Regions from separate parts of the Homo sapiens genome. Here region 1 is linked to region 2. Evidence: fine-mapped expression QTL. A gene starts in region 2. The other region holds a variant in brackets. All regions are shown on one strand. Distances are from middle to middle.

The links. PIP is the estimated chance that this variant, and not a neighbour inherited with it, causes the effect.
Region 1: its variant is fine-mapped to the expression of RPS25 in whole blood (INTERVAL, PIP 0.94).

What each region holds. Positions count from the first base shown.
Region 1 is chr11:119,061,095-119,069,359 of GRCh38, forward strand. It overlaps VPS11 (VPS11 core subunit of CORVET and HOPS complexes), which reads left to right and starts at 6,724. Exons shown (of 16, transcript NM_021729.6): 1 at 6,724-6,916; 2 at 8,102-8,250. The coding sequence starts at 6,730. LOC124902769 (a long non-coding RNA gene) reads right to left here and starts at 6,661. Exons shown (of 2, transcript XR_007062917.1): 1 at 6,403-6,661; 2 at 4,168-4,877. RefSeq lists enhancers at 6,712-6,761, 6,822-6,871. The variant G/A (reference allele first, on the strand shown) is at 3,610.
Region 2 is chr11:119,014,755-119,023,077 of GRCh38, forward strand. It overlaps RPS25 (ribosomal protein S25), which reads right to left and starts at 3,589. Exons shown (of 5, transcript NM_001028.3): 1 at 3,528-3,589; 2 at 3,204-3,299; 3 at 2,608-2,791; 4 at 1,087-1,185; 5 at 963-1,004. The coding sequence starts at 3,530. The coding sequence ends at 1,091. It overlaps CENATAC (centrosomal AT-AC splicing factor), which reads left to right. Exons shown (of 11, transcript NM_198489.3): 9 at 240-329; 10 at 553-685; 11 at 784-1,039. The coding sequence ends at 844. It overlaps TRAPPC4 (trafficking protein particle complex subunit 4), which reads left to right and starts at 4,012. Exons shown (of 5, transcript NM_016146.6): 1 at 4,012-4,216; 2 at 4,389-4,563; 3 at 5,396-5,499; 4 at 7,006-7,132. The coding sequence starts at 4,042. RefSeq lists enhancers at 3,311-3,380, 3,401-3,630, 3,885-4,583 and a silencer at 3,871-3,990.

The DNA of each region.
Region 1 (8,265 bases), 46 kb after region 2:
ATTGTCTGAGCTTAGGAGTTCAAGACCAGCCTGGGCAACATGGTGAAACCCCGTCTCTACTAAAATACAAAAAAATTAGCCCAATGTGGTGGTGCATGCCTGTAATCCCAGCTACTCAGGAGGCTGAGGCAGGAGAATTGCTTGAACCCAGGAGGCAGAGGCTGCAGTGAGCCGAGATTGTACCACTGTACTCCAGGCTGGGCGACAGAGTGAGACCCTGTCTCAAAAAAAAAAAAAAAAAGAAGAAGAAGAAGAAAGCTCTCGAAGCTCCTAAGAGAGCTCCAACCATGAATACCCCTGGTGGGAGCATGGTTCTGCCACAGCTACAGTTCTCAGCCTGGGTATCTGTCCCCCTGGGTAGTGAAGCAGGTGCAAGTGCTCTGAGGAGTCAGCTGTTTTGTTCTGGGACCAGAGGGTAGAATAGTATTTCACAAGAACAAGCTGAAGAACAATGGGAAATTTTTAATGTAAAACACCTGATTTAGATTGACCTAGGCAGGTGAACTCATTGGTTCTTCTCCAGAATAACTTGTTAACATTGGAGGACTATATCCCTTCCCCAACACTGCAGAAACCTAAGGGAAGAAAGTTGCCGTCTTGCAGAACATGTGCCAAACTGACAGAGGTGTAAAATAGACATATCGGTGAGGGTATATATGCACATAAACCATGCAAATTACATGATGGGCTGAGGGCAGTGTTGATCAGAGAGAATATCCTACACCAGAAGAATTTTTAAAAATTAGTTGTCGGCTGGGGGTGGCTCCCGCCTGTAATCCCTGCACTTTGGGAGGCTGAGGCAGGTGGATCATGAGGTCAGGAAATCAAGACCATCCTAACACGGTGAAACCCCATCTCCACTAAAAATACAAAAATTGGTGGTGGCATGTGCCTGTAGTCCCAGCTACTCAGGAGGCTGAGCCAGAAGAATTGCTTGAACCCAGGAGGTGGAGGTTGCAGTGAGCCGAGATCGCGCCACTGCACTCCAGTCTGGGCGACTGAGCCAGACTCCATCTCAAAAAAAAAAAAAAAAAAAAAAAATTGGCCCGGCGTGGTGGCACGCACCTGTAATCCTAGGTACTGGGGAGTCTGAGGCAGGAGAATTGCTTGAACCTGAGAGGTGGAGGTTGTAGTGCGCCAAGATTGTGCCACTGCACTCCAGCCTGGGTGACACAGTGAGACTCTGTCACAACAACAACAAAAAAAAGTAAACATATGTTCACCCAGAGGCTGTTGGTAATAGCTTTATTTATAACAGCCCCGGGCTGAAAACTATCCAAATGCTCATCAACAATTGGATAGATAAATGAATCAGAGATTCATACAGTGGAATTCTATACAGCAATAAGAATGAGTGGACTATTATTACATAGGACAACTTAGATGAATTCTACAAACATAATACTGAGTGAAAGAAGCCCAAGTACATACTGTATGATTTAAATATCAAGTTTAAAAGCTGGCAAAACTAAGCTACAGGGATAGAAGTCAGGATGCTGCTATCCTTTAGATACAGGGTCTTGCTCTGTTGCCCAAGCTGGAGGGTTTAGAAGAGGACATAAGGCAAGCTTCTAGGGGTGCTAGATATGTTCCCCCCACTCCTTTTTTTTTGAGAGAGAGTCTCACTCTGTCACCCAGGCTTGTGTGCAGTGGCACAATCTCAGCTCACTGCAACCTCTGCCTCTGGGGTTCAAGCCATTCTCCAGCCTCAGCCTCCCAAGTAGCTGGGACTGTAGGCGTGCAACACCATGCCCAGCTAATTTTTGTATTTAGTAGGGACAGGGTTTCACCATGTTGCCCACGCTGGTCTCGAACTCCTGACCTCAGGTGATCTGCCTGCTTCGGCCTCCCAAAATACTGGGATTACATGCCTGAGTCACTGTGCCTGGCTGCTAGCCATGTTCTCATTGCTGATTACGATGGGAGTGTCCAGTTAGTTTGTGGAATTTCAGTGGGTTGTACTACTCTACAACTTTTTTGTATGTTGTTACTTCAATAAAACATTTAAAAATTATTTTGTCTGTCATACAAACAACTCTAGGGTTTGTTGTTGTTGTTGTTTTGAGACAGGGTGCTCACTCTCTTGCCCAGGCTGGAGTGCAGTGGTGTGATCACAGCTCACTGCAGCCTCCATCTCCTGGGCTTAAGCAATTCTCCCTCCTCAGCCTCTCAAGTAGCTGGAACTACAGGTGCACATCACCACACCTGACTACTTATTTCTTTATTTATTTTTAGTAGAGACGAGGTCTGCCTATGTTGCCCAAGCTGGTCTTGAACTCCAGGCCTCAAGTAATCCTCCCACCTTGGCCCCCCAAAGTGCTGGATTATAGGCATAAGCCACCTTGCCTGGCCTCAAGAGACTCTAGGTTTGACTTTGCTGTAACCCTAGGCAGGAGAGAGCCCATTTTCAGCAGGAGATAAACCAAGATAAATTTTTTCCTACTTCTATAACAATATTTTTAGAATTACAAAAGAAATATGTGGCTAGGGCCAGGCACGGTGGCTCACAGTACTTTGGGAGGCCCAGGCGGGTGGGTCATTTGTGGTCAGGAGTTTGAGACCAGCCTGGACAACATGGTGAAACCCTGTCTCTAGTAAAAATACAAAAATTAACTGGGTGGTAGTGGTGTGTGCCTGTAATCCCAGATACTTGAGAGGCTGAGGCAGGAGAATCACTTGAACCTGGGAGGCAGAGGTTGGGGTGAGCTGAGATCGCGCCATTGCACTCCAGCCTGGGCGACAGAGTGAGACCCTGTCTCCCCGGCCCCCGCCTCCAAAAAAAAGAAAGAAATATGGTGGCTTACACTTGTAATCCTAGCACTTTGGAAGGCTGAGGCGTGTGGATTGCTTGAGCCTAGCAGTTTGTGACTAGCCTGGGCAACAGGGCAGAACACTGTCTCTACTAAAAGTACAACAACAACAAAATTAACTGGGCATGGTGGCATGAGCCTGTAGTCTCAGCTACTGGGGAGGCTGAGGTGGGAGTATCTCGTGAGCCTAGGAGGTGGAGACTGTGGTGAGCCGTGATTGTGCCACTGCACTCTAGCCGTGTCTCAAAAAACAAAACAAAACAAAAAAGAACGAAAGAAATATGCGGTTATTGACGAAAACTGGAAGAACATTAAAACAACAACAGGCCGGGCGTGGTGGCTCATGCCTGTAATCCTAGCACTTTGGGAGGCAGAGGCGAGTGGATCACTTGAGGCCAGGAGTTTGAGACCAACCGGGGAAACATGTCAAAACCATGTCTCTACAAAAAATACAAAAACTAGCCGGGCATGATGGCGTGCGCCTGTAGTCTCAGCTACTTGGGTGGCTGAGGCACAAGAATCGCTTGAACCTGGGAGACGAGACAGAGGTTGCAGTGAGTCGAGATCGTGCCACTGCACTCCAGCCTGGGCAATGGAGGGAGACTCTATCTCAAAAAGAAAAGAAGGTAGTTTCTACCTGGAGAGCCAGATGATAAAAACGGAAAATTAAAGTTTGCTGAGGCAACTACACAGGAGGCTGAGGCAGGAGAATCACTTGAACCTGGGAGGCGGACGTTGCAGTGAGCCGAGATCACGCCACTGCACTCAAGCCTGACGACTGGCGACAGAGCGAGACTCC[G/A]TCTCAAAAATAAAATAAAATAAGATAAAAATAAATTAAAGTTTGCATTTGGGACAAGAAGTGTTCCTGTTTTGTTCCAGTGGATGTAACTGTTTTATATCATGGGCAGCAGTTTGCTAAAGGGAAAAGAAAATACTGCAAGACAATTCTTGCATTCTTGATTCTGAGTTATGACCTCTCTAATTCGAAACTAAAGACTTGTATTTCTTCTTTATCTTTAGTCCATTCAGAACTCGAGTTCTCAGTATGCAGAACTAACTGTAAGTGAACAGTCATTTTCTGTGTAATTTGCTTGGTTATATTCCTCACTATCCTGAAATTCCTGGGTTCAGACCAGTGTAACTAAGAGACAAACCCTGGTGTATGTTCTGACAAGCATAATCTAGCTTTACACCCATCAAACTATCTAATTAGAGGGTAGGGGACTGAATTACTCATTTTATTTCCAAAGAACTTTGAAGTTTTTGCCCAGAGAGAGCCACTTTAAGTTAAACTCTTTGAGACTCCATTTCTCATCAGGGATAATGATACCTCTTCTGCAGATGGTTGCTACGAAGATTCCATGAAAAGCGAAGGCACTTTATTAGATATAATTTACTACATGAAATTAGGGGCTTGTTACTGTCAGTTCTTTTTATGCCTGTCTCTAGGGTGGTGGTTGAGGACCATGTCTTGTTCATTTATATTCTGGGCATTTGGTACAATTCCTGGACTAGGAGTGCTCAATACATATTTGTCAAAAGAAGGAAAGGAAAGAAGGTAGTAAGTCTGAAGAGGTGCTGTGGGTCTCTCTGGCAGGCCAATCTCGGCCTTTGTAACCCTCATCAATAAGAGGATCCAATGGGCACAAGTAGAACCAGATTCAGCCCTCAGAGGAAGACGTGGAGCTTCTGCCATTGGACAACAGGGGGAGCACCCAAGCAACAAAGATGCACTCTATCTCTTGTTCACATCTCTGCTTTTACATTTCTTCTTTTTTGAAGCCTGTTGCCCACGCTGGTCTTGAACTCCTGGCCTCAAGGGATCCTCCTGCCTCAGCCTCTTAAAGCGCTGGGATTACAAGCATGAGCCAGCTTGCCTGGCCACATTGCTTCTTTTAACATATATTCTTCATAGGCTTAACAACTGACATATTAACATACTATCTAAACATTCTGATGACCAGTATGGAATATGCTCAGTAGGTGAAAGTGGGTTCAACCCGCTCCCATTTGTGCTTCTGCCCAACAGTTGGTATCCTGAAACAGTTGCAATGAATTGGAGATATCCTGTGTGATGAAGAGGAAAGAAACTTGAGTTGGAAGTCAGGAAATCTGTGTGCATGGTGGTGGCTAGAGTTTCTTCCTATCATTTACCTCTTCAGACAAATGGACGCCACCTGCCCATCAACCAGATTGAGGAGAGGAGTGGATAAGAGGAGAGGCATCCACACCACATTCATTCCTTCAACCAAACATGGAACTTCTACCAGGCTCTGCTAGGCCTCGTTCACAGTTACGGTACAAGATGTAGCCCCCGCTCTCAGGGAACTCTGGCTGGTGGAAATACAGCATCAAATATTCTGAAATAAGTTGGGGGAGGGCCGGGTGCGGTGGCTCACGCCTGTAATTCCAGTACTTGGGAGGCCGAGGCGGGTGGATCACCCGAGGTCAGGAGTTCGAGACCAGCCTGGCCAAAATGGCAAAACCCCAACTCTACTAAAAATACAAAAATTAGCCAGGCGTGGTGGCAGGCAGCTGTAATCCCAGCTACTCAGGAGGCTGAGGCATAAGAATCGCTTGAACTCGGGAGGCGGAGGTTGCAGTCAGCTGAGATTGTGCCACTGCGCTTCAGCCTGGGGGATAGAGAGAGACTCTGTCTAAAAAAAAAAAAAAAAAAAAAGAAAAAAGAAAAAAAAGGAAGTTGGGGGAGTGCAAACAATAAACTTCACAAATACCACAGGGTCACTTTTCCATATGTCCCTACCATCTCAAAATGATGCTATGTCACTTCTGTCTATAGGTTCTCATGGCACACAAACAGTAAACCTGCAGTAGTTGTCCATGAGGATAGATCTTGCTTGGATTCAAAGATGGTTTAGCCAGAGTTGGGAGTGGAGAATGATCATGTAATATCTTGGACACCTGCCACTTCTCATTAAAACACTCAGCTCTCAAAGCTGCCACTTCCAGGTTTTTGCTCAGTTCTATGTCCCCTACCCTGCCACTATGAAAGGGGGAGAAAGCCCAGGGCCTTGGGAATTCCTGCCCCACCAGTATTTCCCAGTTTCCTTTTTTTTTTTTTGAGACAAGGTCTTGCTCTGTCGCCCATGCTGGAGTGCAGCGGCTCGATCACAGCTCACTGCAGCTTCCAACTCCGGGGCTCAATCGATCCTCCCACTTCAGCCTCCCAAGTAGCTGGGACCACAGGTGTCCACCACCATGCCAGGCTCATTTTTGTATTTTTTGTAGAGATGGGGTTTCACCATGTTGCCCAGGCTGGTCTCGAACACCTGGGCTCAAGTGATTCCCCCACCTCGGCCTCCCAAAGTGCTGGGATTACAGACAGGCATGAGCCATCGCGCCCAGCCCGTTTCCTTAAGAAACGTTTTGAGCGTCTGTTAGGTGTCATACGCTCTGACGGGGGAAACAAAAACGAATATAAAACATTGACTATGGTTCACAATCTGCGTGGTGGCAGACACAAACTTCTAATTTTATTTCTCCTCTCATACAGCCGAAAACCTGGTTTAACATACACTGTTTCATTTATGCCCCAAAACAGTCCTGTGAGGTCAAAACGTCATTCACTTACGCACGGCGGGTGACAGTTCACAAGGCACATGACATCCCTCATCTTGATCTCCCGGTATCCGCGCATTTTAGGAAGAAACATGCTCAAAGGGATGAAGGGTCCGCTCTCAAGCATTTTAGCTAGCGAAGTTACAGTCACATCCGGCAAACTCGCACACTGCAGATCTAGGACTACCCCGCGCGGCCCCGCCCACTTTCCCAGCAGCGGGACGCTGTCACCCCGACTCAGGAGCTCCTGGGCCCGCGGGCTCCCGGAAGCTGCCGACCACGTGATTCGCTGGCTCAGCTCACGTGACAAAGCTCCCGGAGGTGGGAGCCCTGGGCCAAAATGGCGGCCTACCTGCAGTGGCGGCGCTTCGTTTTCTTCGACAAGGAGCTGGTGAAGGAGCCGCTGAGCAATGATGGGGCCGCTCCCGGGGCCACACCTGCTTCTGGATCCGCTGCTTCCAAGTTCCTTTGCCTCCCTCCTGGCATCACTGTCTGCGACTCAGGCCGAGGGAGCCTGGTCTTTGGAGATATCCTTCGTTTGGAGCTGTCTTTTCCCTCCCGGGATCCCGAAGAGATCGAGTTAGGATGAAATCTGTTTGTCGGAGGGGTCCGTGCCGCGCGCCTCTTTGGTTTAGCTGGTCATCCAGAGTTGTTCTGTGGTCTACGGGAAGAAAGAAGGAAGTCCATCTCCTAACTTGTTATCAACTGAGCAATCCTGGGCAAGTCATTTAACCTCTCTGGGTTTTAATTTCCTTATCTGTAGGAGATGTGTGCATGCCAATTTGACGAGGTTAATTTGAGATCAATAAGAAAAAGAATGCAAGTTGGCTTTAAAAGATGAATATGTAAAGTGACATGATTTCCCCTGCCCTAATATTATCGTTGGCGAGGAGGTAAATGAGCCTAGCGGTTTGTTGCTTTCATCTTCATGTTGCTGCTACTAAATTCTGGCCTTTTTACCTTTTTTTTTTTTTTTTTTTTTTTGATACGGAGTCTTACTCTGTTGCCCAGGCTGGAGTGCAGTGGCGGGATCTGGGCTCACTGTAACCGTCTCTTGAGTTCAAGCGATTCTCCTGCCACAGCCTCCCGAGTAGCTGGGACTACAGGCGCTTGCCACCACACCCGGCTAATTTTTTACATTTTCAGTAGAGACGGGGTTTCACCATATTGGCCAGGCTGGTCTCGAACTCCTGACCTCGTGATCCACCCGCCTCGGCCTCCCAAAGTGCTGGGATTACAGGAGTGAGCCATCGCGCCCGGCGCACTAAATTTTTTTCTTTTTTTTGAGACGGACTTTCACTCTTGTTGCACAGGCTGGAGTGCAATGGCATGATCTGGGCACACTGCAACCTCCGCCTCCCGGGTTCAAGCAATTCTCCTGCCTCAACCTCCTGAGTAGCTGAAATTACAGGCACGCACCATTATACCTGGCTAATTTTTGTATTTTTAGTAGAGACAGGTTTCACCATGTTGGCCAGGCTGGTCTCGAACCCCTGACCTCAGGTGATCCGCACCCCCCCCCCCCCCCGGCCTCCCAAAGTGCTGGGATTACAGGTGTGAGTCACCGCGCCTGGCCTCACTCTTTTTAAGATAAGGAGTATGTGGGAAAATCCTTGAAAATTTTAGAGTTATATACATGTAATTGTTATCTGAGTTCTGGTCTGAATGTAAGTATCTCTCCTTGGAAAGGAGGCTCCTTGACTACCCTGCACATATGGAAGGCCAGATCTGGTTCTTGCCACGTTCCCTACAGCTTACAGGCTTCCAAGCCTACAAACTACGGGTGACACACCTGTACCAACTGAAGCAGCACAATATTCTGGCATCTGTTGGAGAAGATGAAGAGGGCATCAACCCCTTGGTGAGTCCCAGCAGG
Region 2 (8,323 bases):
CAAATTTAAGTGTGTATCGTTTATGTCAGTTGTGCCTCAAAGCCATTTTAAAATGACTGTCACATATGGGGTATGTCGCTTTAAATTAGCCTAGGGCCTTCTAAAGCTCCAGAATTCCTGGGCTTTGCTTTTAGACATTTCTAGCTCTTAATGAGGAGAGGTAAGCTAACAGCTAGGACATGTTTCACAATAGCCTGAAGACTTAAAAAAAAAAAAAAAAGCCTTAATTTTTTTTTCAGGTGCCACACCTCCCTGGATGATCCAAGATGAAGAATACATTGCTGGGAACCAAGAAATAGGACCATCCTATGAAGAATTTCTTAAAGAAAGTAAGTAAACTAATTCAAGAGAGGATCGTCTAAATCTTCACACTCAAAAATGGTTTCCTTGCCTGTGTGTGGTGGCTCATGGCTATAATCCTAGCATTTTGGGAGGCTGAGGTGGGAGGGTCACTTGAGCCCAGAAGTTTGAAAACAGCCTGGACAACATAGTGAGACCCCATCTCTATATTCTTCAATAAAGAAAAATAAAAGTTTCCCTATCATTGTACAGAGGAAAAACAGAAGTTGAAAAAACTCCCCCCAGACCGAGTTGGGGCCAACTTTGATCACAGCTCCAGGACCAGTGCAGGCTGGCTGCCCTCTTTTGGCCGCGTCTGGAATAATGGACGCCGCTGGCAGTCCAGGTATGTGTGTTCAGTGCCGGGTCTCCAACCTACCCATCCAACCTCCTTTTTGGAGATGTCACCCTTCATCATCGTGTTAACCCTTTATTTCCTTTCAGACATCAATTCAAAACTGAAGCTGCAGCAATGAAGAAGCAGTCACATACAGAAAAAAGCTAATCATGCTCTCTACCAACTACCATGAGGCTAAAAGCAAAGTCAACAAACCCCTATTATACCTTCCACCAAATTCTTTATCATTGTCTTTCTTAGGAAACAGACATACTCATTCATTTGATTTAATAAAGTTTTATTTTTCCAAATGTACAGCTGGTTGGACCTGTAAAAAAAAATTAAAAGAATCAGAACCATAAAGCTTTGTATCTACCTCCTACACCATGAGCCCACACATTCCTACTCACCTATTCATGCATCTTCACCAGCAGCTGGAGCATCTCCACCCTTGGTATTTCTGGTGTAAATTACTTGAGCTCTGTGCTTTGAAACCAGTTTGATAAGTCCTAGGGGGAGAGAATAGCACGATGAGATGCTTAACAGATGCTACAATAGAAACTAGTAAGGTTTTTGGCTGGGCGCGGTGGCTCATGCTTATAATCCCACTGCTTTGGGAGGTGGAGACGGGCAGATAGCTTGAGGTAAGGAGTTGCACACCAGCCTGGCCAACAAGGTGAAACCCCATCTCTACCAAAAATACAAAAATTAGCTGGGCATGGTGGCACATGCTTGTAATTCCAGCTACTTGGGAAGCTGAGGTGAGGACCACCTGAACCCAGGAATTGGTGGTTGCATTGAGCCAAGACTGCCCCTCCGCACTCCAACCTGGGCAACAGAATGAGACTCTAGTAAGGTTTGTTTTGGCCGGGTGCAGAGGCTCATGCCTGTAATCCCAGCACTTTGGACAGGTGGATCTCTTGAGCCCAGGAGACCAGCCTGGGCAACATGGCAAAACCGCATCTCTATTTAAAGAAAAGGAAAACAAAAAGACAGAGTTCTCTCAGAGGTGCCCAGAATGGTCTTAAAACTCCTTGGCTCAAATGATCCTCCTGCTTTGGCCTCCCAAGTAGCTAGAAATACAAGGGTACCACTGCACCTGGCTCCAGAATTGCTTAATCTGACGTTCGGTAACCGAGAATCCTAGTTTTTAACGATCATCTATCCTTACTTTTCCTTTAAATTAGGGCTCCATTATCTTCCACCCCCCCCCCCTTTCTGAGACAGTCTTTTGCTGTCACTAAGGCTGGAGTGCAGTGGTGTCATCTCGGCTCACTGCCACCTCCATCTCCTGGGTTCAAGGGATCCTCATGCCTCAGCATCCTGAGTAGCTGGGATTACAGACGTGTGCCCCCACGTCCAGCTAACTTTCAGTAGAGCAGGTTTTCACCATATTGGCCAGGCTGGTCTTTAACTCCTGACCTCCGTTGATTCACCCGCCTTGGCCTCCCAAAGTGCTAGAATTATAGACGTTCAGTCACTATAGTTAGCTGAGCCTTATTATTGTGGAATTATGGTAATCAGACCATACTACTGAGTAGACCGTACTAAATTTCTGGTTTTAAAATTTAATACATCAACAAAATATTTACCATAAAGGTTTTAAACATTTTCAAAGTTGTTTCAAAATAGTAATCTAATTATTTCAAAAACGGTTGTCCCTGTAATTCTATGCATCCATTTACTCGAAACATAAAAGATCCTTGGGCTTCACTAAACTGCCACAGGGTCCACGGCACAAAAGTGGCTAAGAACCCTGAGAATTCATCTCAGGATCAGGAGTAAGACGTCAGAATTACATTACTAACAGCCAATGGTCAAGCCACGCTTTTTTTTTTTAATTCTGCTTTTCCAGCAAAACCACTGAAGATGCTTAACATGGTCAAGACAATTTAACCTACAAAAACACACATGTAGGATACACCCCTCACCTTTACTAAGGAGCTCCTGAAGGGCTGCCCTGGCCAGGGAGCCTCGAATCTTCAGTCTCTCAGAGACCACAGCTGGGGTTATAAGTTTATAGTTGGGAACTTCCTTACAGAGTTTATCATAGGTAGCTTTGTCAAACAAGACTAAGTTATTGAGCTTGTCCCGAACTTTGCCTTTGGACCACTTCTGCTCACCAAAACAAAACAGAAACAAGTTAGTATTTCTGGCAGAAGCACCCTTTCCCTCTCGAGTAATCTGCGTCAGAGAAATCTGTTCCACCGTTATCAAGGATAAATTACACATTACTAAAACAAAAACAAAAAAAAAACACCGACACGTTTTTGGCCTTCAAACAGGGGCCGAGCCCCACTAGATCAGTTAAAAATAACACAGCAGGCACAGCGGCAGACACTTCGCACAACAGACCCATTTTCATGATCCTAATGGGAAAAAGAACGAGTGGTGACGGGAAGATAAACTCTCACATTTTGACTCTAGAAATCTACACCTGAAAAACCACTTACTATACAAGTTACCTATTACTAGAGGATTACGAGAGAGTTACCCCTAGTCTCTTTCAGAGAGGTCTTATTTCTACCTTCTTTTTGGCCTTGCCCCCGGATTTGTTCACTGGGTCTTTGTCTTTCTTGGCCGACTTTCCAGCGTCCTTCTTCTTCTTGTCGTCCTTAGGCGGCTGTAGGAGGGCAGCGGGAATGCAACCAGGTCCTCAAATAGCGCCAAAGTCCCCTAATACTGCGCCCTCAGCCCCCGCAAACTCCACCACCAGAGCACATGGGCCAAGCAATAACCGCGCCCGCCCTGCAACCGAGGCCGGCAGGCCAAGGAGCGCTCCCGCCGAAGGCTCTCCCCACTGAGTCCTCAAACCCAAGAACGCCGGCGACTTCACACCCCTGAAGCTTACCATTGCGAAGCTCGGAGAATAGCAGCAGACACCGCAGCCTCGTCAAGATGTCGGACAAAAAGGAAGCGCTGCTCAGAAACGGGCCCAAAAACCACCGTCCGCTGTGAGTACTTCCGGGGCAAAAGGCGGAGCCAGGCAGAAGAAGTCCCACGGCGAAGCGCTCGCCCTCTAGCCTGAGGCGGAAGACAGGAAGTGGATTCTAGTTCCCAAGCCGCACCGCCTAAATACTGCCGGAGTCTGCGCTAGTTGTGACGCATACTATAGCGCTGTTTTCCTGCACTGATAAACGAAAAGCAATCCACCAGGTCTCGGCAGCTAACTTTCCGGCACTACTTATGCCCGAGCGTGTCGCTCCCAGTGCGCAAGTGCAGCAGGTGGCTGCACGGGGGGCGCGGGAGGAGGAGGAGGAGGAGGAGGAGGCTGGGGTGGGGCCGGCGGCAAGTGCTGTGATGCGGTTCCGGGGAGGGGCCGTCGGGTAGAGGCTGAATACCAGTTTCCGAGCGGCAAGGCAGCGATGGCGATTTTTAGTGTGTATGTGGTGAACAAAGCTGGCGGCTTGATTTACCAGTTGGACAGCTACGCGCCACGGGCTGAGGCTGAGAAAACTTTCAGTTATCCGCTGGATCTGCTGCTCAAGCTACACGATGAGCGTGTGTTGGTTGCTTTCGGCCAGCGGGACGGCATCCGAGGTGGGCTAGGCTCGGGCCCGTGGCGGGTGCGGGGGTGGGAGGGCCCCAGTGCTGTAGAAGTGGGCTGGTTGTAGGTGCGGGGTTGGGGGAAAAGGGGTTGTGTCGGGTCCCTTGTCCCCTCGGCGGAATCCCCGGGCTGCACCTTCGCTGACCGTTAGCTTCACCTCTGCAGTGGGTCATGCAGTGCTGGCCATCAATGGCATGGACGTGAATGGCAGGTACACGGCCGACGGGAAAGAGGTGCTGGAGTATCTGGGTAACCCTGCTAATTACCCGGTGTCCATTCGATTTGGCCGGCCCCGCCTCACTTCTAATGAGAAGCTTATGCTGGCCTCCATGTTCCACTCGTAAGTCCCCCGTCTCCTGAACGGCAGCGCTTGTAATTTGTCTACCTTTTCTTAAATCGTCGTTCTGGTGTTATGAAAAACGCAACCGATCCAGATCTAGATTTTAGGTAATAACGGCAGTGGTGTCATCTTTTTTTGCTGGGTGGGGAGGGGCCGCGGAGTTACCCAGGCTGGAGCGCAGTGGCGGGATCTCGGCTCACTGCAGCCTCTGCCTCCCAGGTTCAAGCGATTCTCCTGCCTCAGCCTCCCGAGTAGCTGGGATTACAGGCGCGTGCCACCACGACCAGCTAATTTTTGTATTTTTAGTAGAGAGGGGTTTTGCCATGTTGGCCAGGCTGGTCTCAAACTCCTGACCTCAGGTGATCCACCTGCCTCGGCTTCCCAAAGTGCTGGGATTACAGGAGTGAGCCACCGCGCCCGGCCGAGGTGTCATCTTACTTAAAGTCAACTTCTCTTCTCTGAGCCTTAGTTTCTTCATATTTAAAGAAAGCCAGTTTAACTAAATGACCTTTAAACTTTTTCTGCTCTCAATTGTGATATCAGATGTGCCGGCCTTTGCTTAAACACAAGCTTAGTAAGCGTGGCACATATTCCTAGAGTATTCATTTTACCCAAAGTTTTAGATGTAAAATGTCTTGTAACAAAGTATGAATGTAAAATATTCACAGAATTCAAATGAACTTAGAAATTTTGACACTACTGCCAGTCAGTTCACACTACTTCTCCTGACTGTCCCAGGCTGTAATGTGAACTCCTCAGCAAATAGGGACACTTCAGTGGAAGTTTGAGAAGCACTCCTTCCTTAGAGCAACTTTGCCTCCTTTGCATATAGGCTCTTTGCCATCGGCTCCCAGCTGTCTCCTGAACAGGGAAGCTCAGGCATTGAGATGCTGGAGACAGACACATTCAAATTGCACTGCTACCAGACACTGACAGGTATGCATCTCCACGGAGGCCAGAGGAGTGTGATGGAGAAGGTGGGGAAGAGATACTGATAAGTTTGCATCTCCAGGTGGGCCAGAGGAGTGTGGTGGAGAAGGTGGGAGGAGGGGGTTGACCAAAGACACCTTTGGTAAGCAAGAAGAGGGGGTGTGCTTTTCCTGGCACAATTCTTTTTTTTTTTGAAATGTTTCACTCTTGTTGCCCAGGCTGGAATGCAGGGGCATGATCCGCCCCCTGGGTTCAAGCGATTCTCCTGCCTCAGGCTCCCAAATAGCTGGGATTACAGGCATGTGTCACCACACCCGGCTAATTTTTCTGTTTTTATTAGAGATGGTGTTTCTCCATATTGGTCATGGTGGTCTCAAACTCCCGACCTCAGGTGATTGCCCGCCTCCCAAAGTGTTGGGATTACAGGCGTGAGCCACCACACCCGACCCACAGTTCTTTTTTTTTTTTTTTTTTTTGAGATGCAGTTTCACTCTGCCACTCAGGCTGGAGTGTAGTGGCATGATCTTGGCTCACTGCAGCCACCACCTCCTGGGTTCAAGCAATTCTCCTGCCTCAGCCTCCCAAGTAGCTGAGACTACAGATGCCCGCCACCACACCCAGCTAATTTTTTGTGGGGTTTTTTTGTTTTGTCTTGTTTTGAGATGGAGTCTTGCTCTGTCACCCAGGCTAGAGTGCAGTGGCGCGATGTTGGCTCACTGCAGCCACCACTACCCGGGTTCAAGCAATTCTCCTGCCTCAGCCTCCTGAGTAGCTGGGATTACAGGCATCCGCCACACGCCCAGCTAATTTTTGTATTTTTTAGGAGAGATGGGGTTTCACCATGTTGGCCAGGCTGGTCTCGAACTCCTGACCTCAGGTGATCCACCTGCCTCTGCCTCCCACAGTGCTGGGATTACAGGCATGAGCCACCGCGCCCGGCCTTCCTGGCACAATTTTATAGACACATCTGTTTGTTTGTTTTGTGAATACAAAACCAATATTTAATCTGAAACTGATTTTGTCCATGCCACCCAGCATGTTCAGCAGAGGTTATCTTGTGTTCAGATAAAACTCACCTTAATGCTATTTCCTGTTGCGTGTACTTTGGAAGGTGTTAAGTGTTTTTCCAAAATGAAATTTGAAAGCAAAATGGATATGACCTTTGGATTGCCAGTGTCATTGCTTCACCCTCTTCATTTATTGAAAACTGCCTGACTTTGTCCCCTGCCTGGCAATGTTTCTGCTGAGGGACTCCAAAACTGTTAGTAAGTGGCAGAGCTAGAACTCAAAGCCTGGTCTTAATCAGGTGGGTGACATAACAAAGTTACTTCACTTCTCTGGTCTCATCGGTAGATTCAAAGTCTTGCCTTTCCTGCATTATGTGGTAAAAAGAATAAAATTAAAATAGGCTTATGAAAGTGTTTTGCAAAATTGAAAGTGCTGTACAAATACAGGATGACACTATTTGCTCCAGTGTCTACGCTTTGGTAACCATTCTTGGTCTCTCTCCAGGGATCAAGTTTGTGGTTCTAGCAGATCCTAGGCAAGCTGGAATAGATTCTCTTCTCCGAAAGATTTATGAGATTTACTCAGACTTTGCCCTCAAGAATCCATTCTATTCCTTAGAAATGCCTATCAGGTAAGTGGCCCCACTTCCCAGATACTGTTTAAAGCGTCCTTGCCCCTCCCTGTGTGCTCTGTCCAAAGTTAGCTGAAGCATAGTAGAGTATTACTTTTTTTGTTTGTTTGTTTTTGAGACGGAGTTTCGCTCTTGTTGCCCAGGCTGGAGTGCAATGATGCGATCTTGGCTCGCTGTAACCTCTGCCTCCCGGGTTCAAGCGATTCTCCTGGCTCAGCCTCCTGAGTAGCTGGGATTGGATGCATGTGCCACCACGCCTGGCTAATTTCATGTTTCTAGTAAAGACAAGGTTTCACCATGTTGGTCAGGCTGGTCTCAAACTCCCGGCCTCAGGTGATCCACCTGCCTTGGCCTCCCACAGTGCTGGGATTACAGGCGTGAGCCACTGCGCCCGGCCGAGTATTACTTTTAAGTAAGACACAAGGAAAGGCCGGTGGCTCACGTGTGTAATCTCAGCACTTTGGAAGACGGAGAGGGTAGGATCACTTCAGCCCAGGAGTTTGAGATCAGCCTGGACAACATAGAACCCCATCTTTACAAAAAAAAAAAAAATTAGCCTGGTGTGGTGGCGGACACCTGTAGTGCCAGCTATTAAGGAAGCTGAGGCGGGAGGATTGCTTAAACCTGGAAGGTCAAGGCAGCAGTGAACCATGCTCGTGCCACTGCATTCCAGCCTGGGCAACAGAACAAGACCGTGTCTCTAAATAAATAAGACAACAGTAGCTGGGTGCAGTGGCTCACGCCTGTAATCCCAGCACTTTGGGAGGCTGAGGCGGGCGGATCACTTGAGGTCAGGAGTTTAAGACCAGCCTGGTCAACATGGTGAAACCCCATCTCTGCTAAAAATACTGAAAATACAAAAATTAGCCAGGTGTGGTCGTGTGCACCTGCAATCCCAGCTACTCAAGTAGGCTGAGGCAAGCAGAATCGCTTCAATCTGGGAGGAAAAGGTTGCAGTGAGCTGAGATCGTGCCACTGATTCCAGCCTGGGTGACTATTTAGAGAAAACAGACTTTCCTTGGTGTTTATGTCATTTTTGTTTGTTTGTTTGTGGGGTTTTTTTTGTTGATGTTTTTTTTTTTTTTTTTTTTTTTGAGACTGAGCTTCACTCTTAACCACCCAGGCTGGAATGCAATGGTGCCATCACGGCTCACCACAACCTCTGCCTTCCGGGTTCAGGCGATTCTTTTG